Regions from separate parts of the Homo sapiens genome. Here region 2 is linked to region 1. The links come from fine-mapping of genetic effects on gene expression. Tissue or cell type: whole blood. Region 1 holds a variant in brackets; the other region holds the start of a gene. All regions are shown on one strand. Distances are from middle to middle.

The links. PIP is the estimated chance that this variant, and not a neighbour inherited with it, causes the effect.
Region 2: it holds the start of PNPLA7, and the variant in region 1 is fine-mapped to the expression of PNPLA7 in whole blood (TOPMed, PIP above 0.99). The same link has a PIP of 0.9 or more in lung.

What each region holds. Positions count from the first base shown.
Region 1 is chr9:137,407,820-137,415,819 of GRCh38, reverse strand. The region is part of intron 1 of EXD3 (exonuclease 3'-5' domain containing 3); the gene reads left to right. Among named protein-coding and RNA genes, the nearest start is that of EXD3, 11 kb to the left of the region's middle. The variant C/T (reference allele first, on the strand shown) is at 3,858.
Region 2 is chr9:137,547,380-137,555,379 of GRCh38, reverse strand. PNPLA7 (patatin like domain 7, lysophospholipase) reads left to right here and starts at 4,978. Exons shown (of 35, transcript NM_001098537.3): 1 at 4,978-5,212; 2 at 7,721-7,795; 3 at 7,984-8,000. The coding sequence starts at 5,183. It overlaps MRPL41 (mitochondrial ribosomal protein L41), which reads right to left and starts at 3,501. Exons shown (of 2, transcript NM_032477.3): 1 at 3,402-3,501; 2 at 2,825-3,306. The coding sequence starts at 3,298. The coding sequence ends at 2,885. It overlaps DPH7 (diphthamide biosynthesis 7), which reads left to right. Exons shown (of 9, transcript NM_138778.5): 9 at 1-936. The coding sequence ends at 141. It overlaps LOC124902317 (a long non-coding RNA gene), which reads left to right and starts at 1,700. Exons shown (of 2, transcript XR_007061883.1): 1 at 1,700-1,793; 2 at 2,679-2,853.

The sequences.
Region 1 (8,000 bases):
AAAACATGGTTTTTAAATGCTGTTTATCATTCATCAGATTCTACCTTGTGTGATCAGAACTGGGGTCCTTGGGAAAGCCCACCCTTGATGGGGGACTGTTGGCCCCAGCCCCGTCTGTGATGGTGACCCCAACATGTGCTGTTGGCACCTCCCAGAAAGGGTTCCCCAGAGCCCATGGGCCACCTGACCCGTCCTTGCAGCTGTCCCATGGTACATCCATGTGTTGTGGGCAGTGAGCTGCAGGGAGGTGGGGTGCACAGAGAAGCTTGCCGCAGAGCTAAAACCAACACGGTGAACAGGGAAGGTGTCCTTCAAAACCGCAGCCTGGGCAGGAGCAGTGGCTCCTGCCTGTAATCCCAGCACTTTAGGAGACCGAGGCAGGCTGATCACCTGAGGTCAGGAATTCGAGACCAGCCTGGCGAACATGGAGAGACCCTGTCTCTACTAAAATTACAAAAATTAGCTGTGCATGCCTGTAATCCCAGCCACTCAGGAGGCTGAGGCAGGAAAACGGTTTGAACCCGGGAGGCGGAGGTTGCAGTCAGCTGAGATCGCCCCACTGCACTCCAGCCTGGGCAACAGAGCAAGACTCCATCTCAAAAAACAGAAAAAAAAAAAACAAACCTGTGACAGGCCCAGCGCAGTGGCTCACGCCTGTAATCCCAGCATTTTGAGAGGCCGAGGTGGGCGGATTGCTTGTGGTCAGGAGTTCAAGACCATCCTGGCCAACATGATGAAACCGCGTCTCTACTAAAAATACAAAAATTAGCTGGGCGTGGTGGCAGGCACCTGTAATCCCAGCTACTCGGGAGGCTGAGGCAGGAGAATCACTTGAACCCTGGAGGCAAAGCTTGCAGTGAGCCGAGATCGCCCCCCTGCACTCCAGCTTGGGCGACAAAGTGAGATTCCGTCTCAGCCTGGACAACAGAGCGAGACTCCATCTCAAAAACATAAAAACAAACATACAAAGAAACCCTGCGACCTACGTGGAGCCCACGGGGGCCAAACATGCCAGCACCCCCCTGGAGTGGCGGTGTGGGACCCCACACCTGTCACACCTGCTGGCCTCCTTCTCCATCTCCTGTGCAATATCCCTGGAAAGTTACTTTTTGTGTTTAAAATTGGTCATGTTAATTGTTAAGGAAAGGAACAATCCTTAAGTTAAATTGGTAAGTTTAAAAAAACGAAAGACAGACCGCAACAGGCGTTGGTGAGGCTGTGGAGAAATCAGAACCCTCGTGTGTTATCGATGCTAGCGTAAAATGGCACGTCCACTGTGGAAACAGTCTGGTAGTTCCTCAAAAAGCTAAACATAGAAACACCGAGACTCAGCAGCTCCAGTCCTAGGAATGTGTGTCCCCAGATCAGTGAAAACACACTCCACACAGAAACATGCACACAGCTGTTCACAGCAGCACTGTTTATAACAGCCAGACAAGGGGGTGCGGCCCGAATGTCTGCTGGACAAACAGCCCGTGGTCTGTGCACACAGTGGGGCAGGACTCAGCCACGGAAAGGCAGTTCCAGCACATGCTGCTGCAGGGATGAGTTTTGAAGACACCATGCCAAGTGAGGTCAGTCAGCCACAAGAGAACAGAACCTTGGCCGGGCGCGGTGGCTCACGCCTGTAATCCCAGCACTTTGGGAGGCCAAGGGAGGTGGATCACGAGGTCAGGAGATCGAGACCATCCTGGCTAACACACAGTGAAACCCCGTCTCTACTAAAAATACAAAAATTAGCCGGGCGTGGTGGCGGACGCCTGTAGTCCCAGCTACTCGGGAGGCTGAGGCAGGAGAATGGCGTAAACCCGGGAGGCAGAGCTTGCAGTGAGCCGAGATGGCACCACTGCACTCCAGCCTGAGCAACAGAGTGAGACTCCGTCTCAAAAAAAAAAAAAAAGAAAAAAAAAACAACAGAACCTGTGTGGTCTCCTTTATAGGAAATGCCCAAAATAGAAAGATTCACAGAGACACAAAATGGCCAGGGGCTGAGGAGGGGCAGAGGGAGTAATTGTTGATGGGCACATGGTTGGTTGTCTTTGGGGCAATGAAAATGTTCTGGGCTGAGGCAAGTGGATCACGTGAGGTCAGGAGTTCAAGACCAGCCTGGCCAAACATGGCAACACCCCGTCTCTACCAGAAATATAAAACTTAGCCGGGTGTGGTAGTGGGCGCCTGTAGTCCCAGCTACTCAGGAGACTTAGGCACAAGAATCACTTGAGCCAGGAGGCGGTTACAGTGAGCTGGGATCGCACCACTGCACTCCACCCTGGGTGACAGAGCGAGACCCTGTCTCAAAAAAAAAAAAAAAAAAAAGCTAGGCCAGGCGCGGTGGCTCATGCCTGTAATCCCAACACTTTGAGAGGCTGATGCGGGCAGATCACAAGGTCAGGAGATCAAGACCATCCTGGCTAACACGGTGAAACCCCGTCTCTACTAAAAATACAAAAAATTAGCCGGGCGTGGTGGCAGGCGCCTATAGTCCCAGCTACTCGGGAGGCTGAGGCAGGAGAATGGCGTGAACCCGGGAGGCGGAGCTTGCAGTGAGCCAAGATCACGCCACTGCACTCCAGCCTGGGCGACGGAGTGAGACTCCGTCTCAAAAAAAAAAGTTCTGGAGTTGGATAGTGGTGATGGTGACTCATGTATGTGAACATGTTGAAAACACCGAGTTGTAACTTTGAGGGTAAATTTTATGGTATGTGAATTATATCTCAAAGTTATAGAGCAGTTACTGAGGCTGGGTGTGGTGGCTCACGCCTGTAATCCCAGCACTTAGGGAGGTTGAGGCAGGAGGATTACCGAGCTCAGGAGTTTGAGACCAGTCTGGGTGACGTAGTGAGACCCCATCTCTACAAAAAATACCCCTCCCAAAATTATCCAGGTGTAGCGTGCACTCCGGTGGTCCCAGCTACTCAGGAGGCTGAGGTGGGAGGATCGTTTGAGCCCTGGAGATTGAGGCTGCCGTGAGCCGTGATCGCCCCACCGCACTCCATCCTGGGCGACAGTGAGACCCTGTCTCAAAAAAATTAAATAAAAATGGTCACTGAGATGGTAAACACATGGAATTCCCTTTGAAGCCAGTGGACACAGTGTGTGAGTCAAGGCTGCTGTTCACTGAGGAGGCCTGAACTCCCTCCCGAGGGGCCCCGGCTGTGCGTGGCCATCTTGCCAGCATCAGCTCATCCTGCTGTGCCCTCGTGCCTCTGGGGGCTGCTCCCGGGGGGCTCTGGGGTATCCACCCTGTCCCATGTGGAATGTTTCTGGTTCCCACTGACACTGTTTGGGGAGTGGTGGCCGCGGGGCTGTTTGCTTCTCCTGGAAGGGCCCCGGTGGGCACCTGGAGCTTTATGACGAGGAGGCTTTTAAGTTTTCTTGTAGACACATTTAAAAACTGAGAAACAAGTGAATTTATTTTAATAATATATTTTATTTAACTCCAGTATGCCCAAAATATTTCCATTTCCACATGCAGTCGATATAAAAAGCTGTCACAGAGATATTGACCCTTCTCTAATCACGTGTCTTGCACTTTCAGCTGTGGCTGCTGTGTCAGACAATATGAGGTGGGGAGGGGACAGGCCTTGGAGGCCTCCTTTGGGATCAACAGCTTCTGGGGGCTCTGAAGCCAGTGTTGCCCGCCCACTCGCTCTGGGTCTCAGGCCGGCCTCCAGCCCCCTGTCCTTGCCGCATCCTGGGGGTGGCGGCTGCAGGGCCCTCAAGGTTGGCGCTCTCAGAAGAGGGCAGTAAGGCCGGCTCTGTGGGGGTGGGGGAGCCTGGGAGCCCCCCATCGGGGTGCCAGGGAGACCTGGGGGGCACACAGCCCACTCTCTTGCCGCCTCCCGCCCTCCTGGCCA[C/T]GCCTGCTGGCGGCACAAGGCCCACCTGGAGGGCCCACCGGTCCTCAGGGAAACACCACAGAAAAACCGCAGAGGAAGCGTGACCTGGCGCCCGGACAAGAATGCAGGGTGGCCCGGCTTCCAGTCCGTCTTGGGTGACTCACTGCGGTGTGCAGAAAACACCATTGTGCACCGCGGCCACAGGAAGCCCTCCGCCTCCCCGACTCCCTCCCACTCCCCCACCCCCTCCCCCTCCCCCACCCATCCCCCTCCCCCCAACCTCCCCCACCCCCGCCTCCGCCTGCCGCTCCTTTTCCAGGTCCCGGGGCTGGTGGTGCTGTGGCACCGATGGAGAGACTGACGGCCGCCGCTGGCCTGCCATGGCCACCTCTGAGCCTCTGCCAGCAACCTGGGTTCTTGTGGGGTCCTTCAAGGTCGGCCTGTTCAGGGGTCGTTTGAGGGAGCTTTGGGTCCTACTTGAGGGCGAAGCTTCGAGGGAGGGGCCCCTGCACATCCTGTTGGTCCCGCCGGTCCCGCCTTCCTGTGGAGGCTCCCTGGGAGGCCGCCGGGTGTCTGGCCAGGCCTCCCAGGAAACCGAGGAGCAGGGCTGCCCCCCATCCTGCCTCAGAGCCCATCTCCGGAGCAAGCCCCATGCCCAGGGCTCGGGGGCAGCTGTGCCTTCGCTGGTTTCCTTCTCTGGGAAGGGGGCATCCTGGGCTCAGCTGGGTTTGGGGTGAAGATGAGCCTTTCTGGGCGTGCGTGCCCCTCCCACGCCTGCGCTCCATTCGGCATCATCTACTCCATCTCACGGCCAGGCCTGGGACTCCCCACCCGGGGGGCCGGCCTCGGGGCCTCAGCCGGAATCTGCTACAGGTTCTGCGGTGGTCCAGGGGCCCTAGAGGTGCCAGCCTATGCCCACCTGGACACCTGCTCAGCGCACAGGGCAGCCACAGCCAATGACCGAAATCTGCACTGAGGCTGGGGGCTGGGGCTCCAGGCACAGTCACCTGCAGTCCCCTGAGACGCCTGGACCTCACTCAGGCCCTGGGGGGTCTGCCAGGCTCTGTGGGAAAGCACTGAGGCCGGGGGCTGGGGCTCCAGGCACAGTCACCTGCAGAGCCTTGGACCTCACTCAGGCCCTGGGGGTCTGCCAGGCTCTGTGGGAAAGGACACAGCCCTCGCCCTGCCCCCCGCCCTCAGCAGCGTCGCCTCCACAGTGAGTCAGGCACGTCCCCCGTGGGTCACCTCCTCCATGCCAGGCCGCCCCCAGGGGGGCTTCCTCGTTGTGCAGTTCTGCCCCGTGTGGGTAGGGACCCAGCTGTGTCGTCTCCCTGGGTGTGGATCGTGGGGCCAGGGAACAAGAGCCTCTGGGGTTCTCAGAACCCAACGTTCTGTGGTCACAGGACTCATGGCAACAATTTGGCTTGAGTTAGCACCTTTCAGAAGAAATGAAGACACTTAAAAGGGTTGGTTGTTAATTTTTTTTTTTTTTTTTTTTTGAGACAGAGTTTCGCTCTGTCGCCCAGGCTGGAATGCGGTGGTGCAATCTCAGCTCACTGCAACCTCCACCTCCTGGGTTCAAGTGATTCTCCTGCCTCACCCTCCCAGGTAGCTGAGATTACAGGCACCCACCACCGCGCCTGGCTAATTTTTGTATTTTTAGTAGAGACGGGATTTCACCATGTTGGCCAGGCTGGTTTTGAACTCCTGGCCTCAAGTGATCTGCCCTCCTCAGGCTCCCACAGTGCTAGGATTGCAGGCATGAGCCACTGTGCCCAGCTGTTGGTTGTTAATTATTTTTGTTTTTTGAGACGGAGTTTAGCTCCTGTTGCCCAGCTGGAGTGTAGTGGCACGGTCTCGGCTCACTGCAACCTTCATCTCCCAGGTTCACACCATTCTCCTGCCTCAACGTCCCGAGTAGCTGGGATTACAGGCACCTGCCACCATGCCCAGCTAATTTTTTGTATTTTTAGTAGAGACAGGGTTTCACCATGTTGGCCAGGCTGGTCTCGAACTACTGACCTTGTGATCCGTCCGCCTCAGCCTCCTAAAGTGCTGGGATTACGGGCGTGAGCCACCGCGCCCAGCCAGCAGTTGTTAATTTTAAGTGGAAGCTGCAAAACTGGTGAGTGGTGTCGCCCCATCAGGGAGCTGGGGAGCCCCGCTTGTCCTGGTGTGGGCTTGGGACCTGGCACCACGTTCCGAGAAAGATGCTGAGAGATCCAGACAGGCTTTTTCATCCTAAAATGAGGCCAGTTACAGAGAGTGTGCAGCGAGGGAATGTGAACTGAATCCTTGCCAGCCGTTTCCATTCTCAGTCACATCAGCCCATGTCTCCACTTGGCCATTTTTAGGTCCAGGGCTTTGTAGACACAGCTCCCTCCCTACACGCCGCATGCCACCATGCCTGGATAGATACCTGTTTTTTTCATAGAAACAGAGTCTCGCTATGTTACCCAGGCTGGTCTCAAACTCCTGGACTCAAGCAATCCGCCTGCTTTGGCCTCCCAAAGTGGTGGGATCAAAGGTGTGAGCCACCACGCCGGGCCAGTTTTCTGTTAACTTAAAACACAATATCTAAAACTGGGTAATTTATAAAGAAAAGGAATTTATTTCTTACAGCTCTGGAGGCTAAGTCTAAGGGTGAGGGGAGCATCCGAGGAGGCGTTCATGCTGGCGGGATTCTGAATGAGGAGGTATTCATGCTGGTGGGACTCCGAAGGGTCCTGAGGCGGCTCGGGGCAGCCATGGTGAGGGCCCAGCATGCGGGCTCAGGCCTCAGGCCTCTCCTCCTCCTCTTATAAAGCCACCAGTTCCACTCCCGTGATAACCCAGGAATCCATGAATGGATTAATCCCTCCAGTGGGGCAGGATCCTCACCCCCCGGGCACGTCCCAAGGCCCCACCTTGAAACGCCGCAGCATGGTGATGGAATTCCAGCGTGTTTCAGAGGGACACACTTTAAATTATAGCAGCCGCCCTCCCACAGAAGGGACAGGCCGACTGCCCCCTTCCCAGGCTGATCAGCAAAGTGAGTGCCATCGGGGCCTTGTACAAGTTCATCCTGAGCTCAGGGATAAAAACAGCCCTGCAGACTTGTGGAGAGGGGCTGACCCAGCCTGATGGTGAGAGACAAGCTGCGCCCGGGTCCTGGGCCTGTGCGCCCGCTGGCCTGGCTTCCCTGTACAGGGTGGGTCTGTCCATTCCGATTGGCTCGAGGCTCCACCTTTTTTAAAGAGGATCTTGGAACTCACAGCCCACTCAAGGGACGCAGATAAAAGGCCCCCAGTCTCAGATTTGGGGTTACCATTGGTCTGAGGGGCCGGTTCAGCTGTGCTGGACGTCCCTGGAGGGCCTTGCTGAGCAGCTGGGGGGAGGTGTGGGGGCCGTAGGGGCTGCTGTCTCCCCCAGAGCCCTCTTTTTTTTTTTTTTTTTTTGAGGCAGAGTCTCACTCTATCGCCCAGGCTGGAGTGTAGTGGTGCGATCTCGGCTCACTGCAAGCTCCACCTCCCGGGTTCACGCCATTCACCTGCCTCAGCCTCCGGAGTAGCTGGGACTACAGGCGCCCGCCACCACGCCCGGCAAATTTTTATATTTTTAGTAGAGACGGGGTTTCACCGTGTTAACCAGGATGGTCTCGATCTCCTGACCTCGTGATCCTCCCGCCTCAGCTTCCCAAAGTGCTGGGATTACAGGCGTGAGCGACCATGCCCGGCCCCCCCACCCCAAAGCCCTCTTAAAAGCCCCTTGGGAGCTTTGGGGCACGTGCAGGGCCGGCCAAATGTTGGAGGAGACACATCCAGGCGCCCAGAGGAAGAGTCACTGTTGGGTTTTAGTAAAACACCCACGCAGCGCAGTCGAACGTGAGGAGGAGGGGCTGGGCTTCAGAGCTTTCTGGAGACACAGCAAGGAGGTTGGGCCAGGGAGACCCTTGGAGGCCTGAGGCTGGGAGACCACAGGAGGCATGAGGGTGGGAGATCCCCAGAGGCATGAGGCTGGGGAGACCCCCGGAGGCGTGAGGCTGGAAAACCCCTGGAGGCTTGAGGCTCCGCATTTGTGTGCTGCGGGGCCTGGGGTGTCCATGGTGCCCAAGGGGAAAGCCCCCTCCGGCCTCCCCCCAGACCCTTTGCTGTGCCCCTCCCGCCTCCCGCCTCCCGCGTGTGT
Region 2 (8,000 bases), 140 kb before region 1:
GGCACCTGGCTGCAGGCTACAGCAGCCACCACACGTGACTGTGGCGTGAACCCAGAAGAAGCAGACTCAGCCTTCAGCCTCCTGGCCACCTGCTCCTTCTATGACCATGCGCTCCACCTCTGGGAGTGGGAGGGGAACTGAGCTTGAAATCATGAAGCCCCTTCCCACAAGGAAACCAGGAGGGAGACTGCGAGTGAGTGCCCGGGACCACCTCATCAGAGATGCTTACTGCAGCCCTGCAGGTGCCTGTGCACTGATGGAATCCACAGTGTAGTCAGAAAAGCTGTTGACTTCTCTTAAATCAGCTTCCCTGCTGGGCCCCTGAAAGTGGACTGGGTGATTCTGTCTGGCAGAGAGTGGGGAAAAGACGCGGTTTCCAGCTTGCAGATTTGTTAAGTTTCTCAGGCAGATTTTGACTTTCAGCCTTTCATACTTGTTTAAGCAACTATTTGTATTAAATGAAGTTTTTTGAAAAACACGAGTTTATAACATGTTTAAAATGAACATTTTATGCCTCATCATGGCACCAGAAATGCTTGTATAGATTGAGCACAGCCAGTCCAAAAATCCAAAATCCCAAAACTTTTGGAAAATCCCGCAGCTGAACTCATGTGACGGGTTGCATATATTATTAAAACTACTGAGCACAGTCACAGTGGCCTGTAATCCCAGCACTTTGGAAGGGGCTGAGGCAGGAGGATTGCTTGAGGCCTGGAGTTCAAGACCAGCCTGGGCAACATAGCAAAACCCAGTCTCTATAAAAAGTAAAACAAAAATTAGCCAGGTGTGGTGCATGTGCCTATGGTCCCAGCCACTTGGGAGGCTGAGGCAGGAGGATTGTTGAGCCCAGGAGGTCGAGGCTGCAATGAGCCAGGGGCAACAGAGCAAGACTCTTATCTCTAAAAATTAAATAATAAAAAATTGTATAAACAATAATTGAGGACAACCAGTTACAGATTCATTCCTTCTCTCACAGCTTCATTTGACTAGCCTAAAAAACATATATATTGTATAAAACTACCCTCAGGCTATGTGTATAAGGTGTACATGAAACAAAATTGAATTTCATGTTTAGACTTGTATCTCATCTCATCCCCAAGATGTCTCATTATGTACATGCAGATATTCCAAAATCTGAAATCCAAAACATTTCTGGTTCCAAGCTTTTTTTTTTTTTGCCCCCCGAGATGGAGTTTTGCTCTTGCTGCCCAGGCTGGGGTGCAATGGCACAATCTTGACTCACTGCAACCTCCGCCTCCCAAGTTCAAGCGATTCTCCTGCCTCACCCTCCCAATAGCTGGCATCCACCAGCATGCCCGGCTAATTTTGTATATTTAGTAGAGACAAGGTTTCTCCATGTTGGTCAGGCTGCTCTCAAACTCTGGACCTCAGGTGATCCGTCCACCTTGGCCGCCCAAAGTGCCGGGATTACAGGCGTTGAGCTGTGCCTTTTTTTTTTTTTGAGACAGAGTCATGCTCGTCACCCAGGCTGGAGTGCAGTGGCTCAATCTCGGTGGCTCCATCTCGACTCACTGCCCTCCACCTCCCAGGTTCAAGTGATTCTCCTGCCTCAGCCTCCGGAGTAGCTGGGATTACAGGTGTGTGCCACCATGCCTGGCTAATTTTTGTATTTTTAGTACAAATGGGGTTTCACCATGTTGGCCAGGCTCCTGACCTCAGATGACCCGCCTGTCTCGGCTTCCCAAAGTGCTGGGATTACAGGCATGAGCCAGGGCGCCCAGCCCCAAGCATTTTGGATAACGACGCTCAACCTGTATTGGATCCCTATGCAGGTAAGTAAAAGGGAGTGTGTGTTCCAAGTTGCCTTGGGGGTCATCAGCTTGAAATATGTGAAGTCTGTAGGGAACACTCATCACTGCAGCACCCACACGGGTTAGCTCCCAAATACTGGACAGATGGTGACTTTAGGTGTGTGAACAAACTGGGTGTGTTACATCCAACTCCTGCTGTGAGGGCTTTTGTCTCTCTGGGAGGAACTGTGGTTGAGGTACAGGCCACTATTTGTCAAATCCTCAGCATTTACTAATGATACATAGGTGACTACAAGCAAAAAAACATGCAGTTTTATCCCTTTTTTGAGACGGAGTCTCACTCTGTTACCCAGGCTGGAGTGCAGTGGTGCGATCTCGACTCACTGCAAGCTCTGCCTCCTGGGTTTAAGCGATTCTCTTGCCTTTGGAGTAGCTGGGACTACAGTCGCACGCCACCACGCCTGGCTAATTTTTGTATTTTTAGTAGAGATGGGGTTTCATCATGCTGGCCAGGCTGGTCTTGAACTCCTAATCTTGTGATCCTCCCGCCTCAGCCTCCCAATGTGCTGGGATTACAGGCGTGAGCCACCGCACCTGGCCTTATCCCTTTCTTCTTTTCTGATGATACAACACAACATGTCACTATATGTCAGATTGCAACAGGAAATTTTCCTAGGCTGGGCGCAGTGGCTCACACCTGTAATCCCAGCATTTTGGGAGGCTGAGGCGGGCGGATCATTTCAGCCCATGAGTTCTCAGCCTGGGCAGCATAGTGAGACCCCCATCTCTGTATCTTTGTTCCCTGGGTGAATAATTTGGGGGATGAACTGACCAGTGCTGTCATCCGGCACAATCTGCCTTGTAAATTCTTTCTCCTGCAAGCTGAGTGATGTTTGCCCTTGGCAGGTTCCCAGAACCTTCGGACTCGGAAGATGACCTCCAAAGAGGTTCACAGCGCCGAGTCTGCATGAGAACTCGGCTTAGGTGCCTGCACTGAAATCTGTCATGCTGCACACTTTGCCATGACCTGAGGCCAAAAAACAAACACCGTATAGCTGGCAAAGGCGTTTAATAGAAATGAGATGAGGGCAGGCCGCCCCTCCCCCGCCCAGCTAGCGCAGGAAGTTCCTGGGGTAGAGCTGGAAGAGCTTTCCCTCCTGTGTGGGCTCGAAGCCGTACTTTTCCAGGTTGTCAGGGTCGAAGGTACCGTCCTTGAAGTCCTTTTCGATGGCAGGCGCCACGGCTTCGCTGAAGAGCTGCGCGGCCGTCAGGGGCGTCTCCTCGCTCTCAGGGGCGAGGTAGCTCACGTAGGGCTTGAGCTTGAAGCCGGTCAGATCCGGGACGACGAACTCCGGGACCATCTCCTTGATCTGCACGAACCTCCAGCCCGAGGTGAGGAAGCCGATGCCCTTGGCGCCCCGGCCCTTGCGGCCCCTGAAGCTGCGCGGGCCCCGCTTGCTCGTCCACTTGCTCATTCGGTCCGCACCCCGGACCAGGCAGCGCGCCGCTGCGGCCAGGACGCCCATGCCGCGCCCTGCGGGAGGAGAGAGCGGGTAGTCGCGGCCCCGGGAACCCGGCCAGCCCCGCCCCTGGCCGCGCGCGGCGCCCGCCCCAATCCGACAGACTCACCTGGACCGGAGACCCCACACGAGCTCCAAGCGGCCCCGGCTCCGGCGCCAACCCGGCCTCGACCTTGCTCCGCTTCCGACCGCTGCGTCGCAGCAAGAGCGGCTCCGATTGGCCGCGGCCGCCGCGTCCAATAGCGGCCCCAATCTGGTAGGGGGTGTGGCCGCGGGGACTCGGCCAATGCGAGGAGCGCGCGGGGCGGGGCGGGGCTCGCGGGGCTGGCGGTGCGGGGCCGGCGGTGCGGGGCTCGCGGGGCGGGGCTCGCGGGGCGGGGCTCGCGGGGCGGGGCTCGCGGGGCGGGGCTCGCGGGGCGGGGCTCGCGGGGCGGGGCTGGCGGATGAGTGATCGCTCTCAGCGCGGTGGTCCCTGGCGTCTCCACTGCCCGCCACTGCCTGTGTTCGTCCGCCAGGTGGCCGGCGGTTTCCCGGGAGCCCAGTCCCCCTGAGGCCGTGAGGTGGCGTCGGGAGGTCGGGGAGGACGCGGGCCCTGGACTCGAGACGGCCGCCGCGTTGACGCCGCGACCCTGCCTTTCTTACCCCTCCGCCGGGCGCGGCTCCTCTGGGCGGAGCCGGCAACCGCGCGGGGAAAGCCCGGGACCTGCAGCCGGGAGGGCCCGGGCTGTCTGTGCTCCCCCGCAGGCCGGGCAGTGGTGTGGGGGGACTCGAGCCCTCGCGGTGCCCAAATTAATCAATAATCTTGGACCCAGCACGTCCGGCTTGCGCACTGAGCCCTCCTGCCCGGTCACCCTCGCAGGCGACCTCTCACCCCACGCGGAAGTCGCCCCCCAGCCGCACCCTCACAATCCGGATCCACCCCCTCCCCAGCTGCACCCCGTCCCCAGCGGCACCCCCACAGCCCAGATCCATCCCCTCTCCAGCTGCACGCCCTTCCCCAGCGGTACCCCCACACCCCAGATCCATCCCCTCCCCAGCTGCACCCCCTCCCCAGCGGCACCCCCACGCCCCAGATCCACCCCCTCCCCAGCTGCACCCCCTCCCCAGCGGCACCCCCACGCCCCAGATCCACCCCCTCCCCAGCTGCACCCCCTCCCCAGCGGCACCCCCACACCCCAGATCCACCCCCTCCCCAGCTGCACCCCCTCCCTAGCGGTACCCCCACTCGCCGGATCCACGCGCTCCCCAGCTGCACCCTCTCCCCAGCAGTACCCCCACACCCCAGATCCACCCCCTCCCCAGCTGCACCCACTCCCCAGCGGTACCCCTACACGCCGGATCCACCCCCTCCCCAGCTGCACCCACTCCCCAGCGGCACCCCCACACCCCAGATCCACCCCCTCCCCAGCTGCACCCACTCCCCAGCGGTACCCCTACACGCCGGATCCACCCCCTCCCCAGCTGCACCCTCCTCCCCAGCTGCATCCCCACACCCCGGATCCACGCCCCGCCAGCGTCACCTCCCCTCCAGCCGTGCTTCTCCAGAAGGCAGCGCTGCCCCCATCCCCGCCGCGCTGGGCCTGGCTCCTCTTGACCTGCTTGGATACGCCCCATCTGGCTGCTGTTCTGGGTTCCGGGACAGCCACGTGAGGGCTGTTTACAGAGGGAAGGAGGTGGCTCCTAGCAGATGACAGACACTTCTCAAAAGACAGCTTTTCTTCCTGGAGAACAGACTTTTTCAGCAGGATTTTCCTTTCAGTGAAACATAATTTGACTTGAAAGGAACCCAGGGAAAAGTGTCCAGGTGTGAGCATGAGCGGGTAGAGGTGTGCCCTTGTTTGCTTCAGGCTGTCTGCTTTTCGCCCCTGACTGTTTTTTCTGTTTCTGGCCATGGAGGAAGAGAAAGATGACAGCCCACAGGTATGTAACTCGGGGGACCAGATGCCTGGATTTCCCAGTTGGGGGGCATTTCTGGACCCAGAGAAGGGTCCTCTTGGCGTCTGCTCTGCCGCGCTCTTTGGCCCCGTGGCTTCTTGGCGCCTGAGGACTGTGGGAGTGGTGGATCTGGCCCCTCTCTGCTGCCTGTCACAGCTGCCAGCACTTGTTAGACGCGCCTGTCACAGCAGACAGCCAGTGGTGGCCCATGGGCATTGTTCACAGCGAGGGCAGCCAGCGGTGGCCCATGGGCATTGCCTGAGGCCTTGTCTTTTCTTCCCCTAAGGTCACAGTTGCTACTTCCAGTTCCTTTAGGACTTTGCCTGATGGTTTTGCTTAGAACCTTTTTCTGTGTTTTTTTTTTTCCCAAGACGGAGTCTCGCTCTGTCGCCCAGGCTGGTGTGCAATGGTGTGATCTTGGCTCACAGCAACCTCCGCCTCCTGGGTTCAGGCAATTCTGCCTCAGCCTCCCGGGTAGCTGGGACTACAGGCACCACGCCCGGCTAATTTTTGTATTCTTAGTAGAAACGGGGTTTCGCCATGTTGGCCAGGCTGGTCTTGAACTTTTTTTTTTTTTTTTTTTGAGACGGAGTCTTGCTCTGTCGCCCAAGCTGGATTGCAGTGGCACGATCTCAACTCACTGCAAGCTCTGCCTCCCAGGTTCACGCCATTCTCCTGCCTCGGCCTCCCAAGTAGCTGGGACTACAGGCGCCCACCACCACGCCCGGCTAATATTTTTTTGTATTTTCAGTAGAGACGGTGTTTCACTGTGTTAGCCAGGATGGTCTCGATTTCCTGACCTCGTGATCCGCCCGCCTTGGCCTCCCAAAGTGCAGGGATTACAGGCATGAGCCACCGTGCCCGGCCTAGTCTTGAACTCTTGACCTCATGATCTGCCCGCCTCGGCCTCCCAAAGTGCTGGGATTACAGGCGTGAGACACTGTGCCCAGCCCTAGAATCTTTTTCTTAGTCAAACATCTGTAGCCACATGGCAAAGGCCTTATTTCCTAAACCAGAACACTGGACCCATTAAAGCAACAGTGAAAAGCTAGAAAAGGCTGAGCCGCTCCACCGCAGGAGAGCCTGTGACCAGGTCACGGGCCATCGCGTGATAGGCCTTCCTTGGATAATCGGTCCCAGAAGCGGTTGCTGGGCTGAGGGACTCACTTCGCTTCCTTAAGTGAGGGACATGGTCGTAGGTGCTTCTCTGCTCCCCACCTGGTTGAGAGTGAGCGTAGGGGTTCCCCTGTCCTGAAGCAGAAGCTCCCAGGGCTTGTATTTGCTTCTGAACCAAGTTCGAAGGGCTCAGCTTTCTGGGCACGTCCTCATTCTGTCTTGGTGCAGAATTGTGTCTTTAAATGCGTTTCTGAGTGCTCTTCTGACTTCCCTGAGTTTTCTTTTTTTTGAGATGGAGTCTCGCTCTGTCGCCCAGGCTGGAGTGCAGTAGCACAATCTCAGCTCACTGCAAGCTCTGCCTCCCGGGTTCACGCCATTCTCCTGCCTCAGCCTCCCAAGTAGCTGGGACTACAGGCACCCACCACCACGCCCGGCTAATTTTTGAATTTTTAGTAGAGACGGGGTTTCACCGTGTTAGCCAGGATGGTCTCGATCTCCTGACCTCATGATCCGCCCGCCTCAGCCTCCCAAAGTGCTGGGATTGCAGGCGTGAGCCACTGCGCCCGGCCCTTCCCTGGATTTTCTGGCACGGATGGGAGTCCTGCTCTCTGCAGTGAGGCGGGGGTGGGTGTTGTTTTAGGCCTTGGCTCTTGTGTAGAAACTTTCAGGCTGAACCAGTGGCTTCCCCTGCCCTATCCGGTTCCTGGCTGCCTGGGAGGAAGGTGTGATGCCAGCAGGAATGGAGAGGGCTGCCTGTCTGGCTGGTGTCGTCTTCTCGTCTTCTCGTTTTCTCTTTCACTTCTTGGAACCACCAGCGTCCTCTGCTGTCGTTCACTCACCATCCTGCCCTCACCCTCTCTTCCCTCCCTCCCGCGGACCTGGACTTCTGAAGTCCTGCTGCTCCAGGAGACTGCAGGACACAGAGCCTTCTCGGCCGCTGCCTCCTTGTTTGGCATGTGAACTGGTGTTGAATGTTCTCAGAATCCAGATGGCTCATAGGGGTTTTGAGCACTGCTCCTGCTGGGGCTGAGGCGACACTGAGAGGGGGGCCTTGGCCTCCCCTTTGGCCAGGCCTGCTCCCTGAGACCTGCATCCCAAGGATTGCATCACCAGCATGTGGGTGTGTTAGTGATGCCTGGGGCAGCCGCTGGCCCTGCCCCACTGTATCCCAGTGACTGAGGGAGCCAGGTTGCTCTCTGAGTGCTTCCTAGCAGGGGGCTCAGAGGACCCCGGCACCCCGGGCGAGATCACTTCTTCCCAGAAGTCTCCAGGGCTGCTGACTTCTCCCCTAACTCCCAGCTCTCCTCCTGCTGCTCTGAACAAGTTCGGGCTGGGAAGCCTGTCCATGCCCACCTGACCCCATGCTCTCTGCTGCAGGCTGACTTCTGCCTGGGCACCGCCCTGCACTCTTGGGGACTGTGGTTCACGGAGGAAGGTTCACCGTCCACCATGGTAATCACCTCACGCTTCCCTGGAGCCAGACCTGGATGGGCCGTGGCCTTTTTCACCTCTCCCTGTCCCCATCCCCTGGCTCATTCCTGCCCAGCCTGTGGTTGGGCAGCCAGGGGTGGGGGCAGGCTTAGGGCTAGGGTTAGGTTTGTGGCTTTGCTGATGGGCGCCGTGTTTCCACTCTCGGCCAGCTGACGGGGATTGCAGT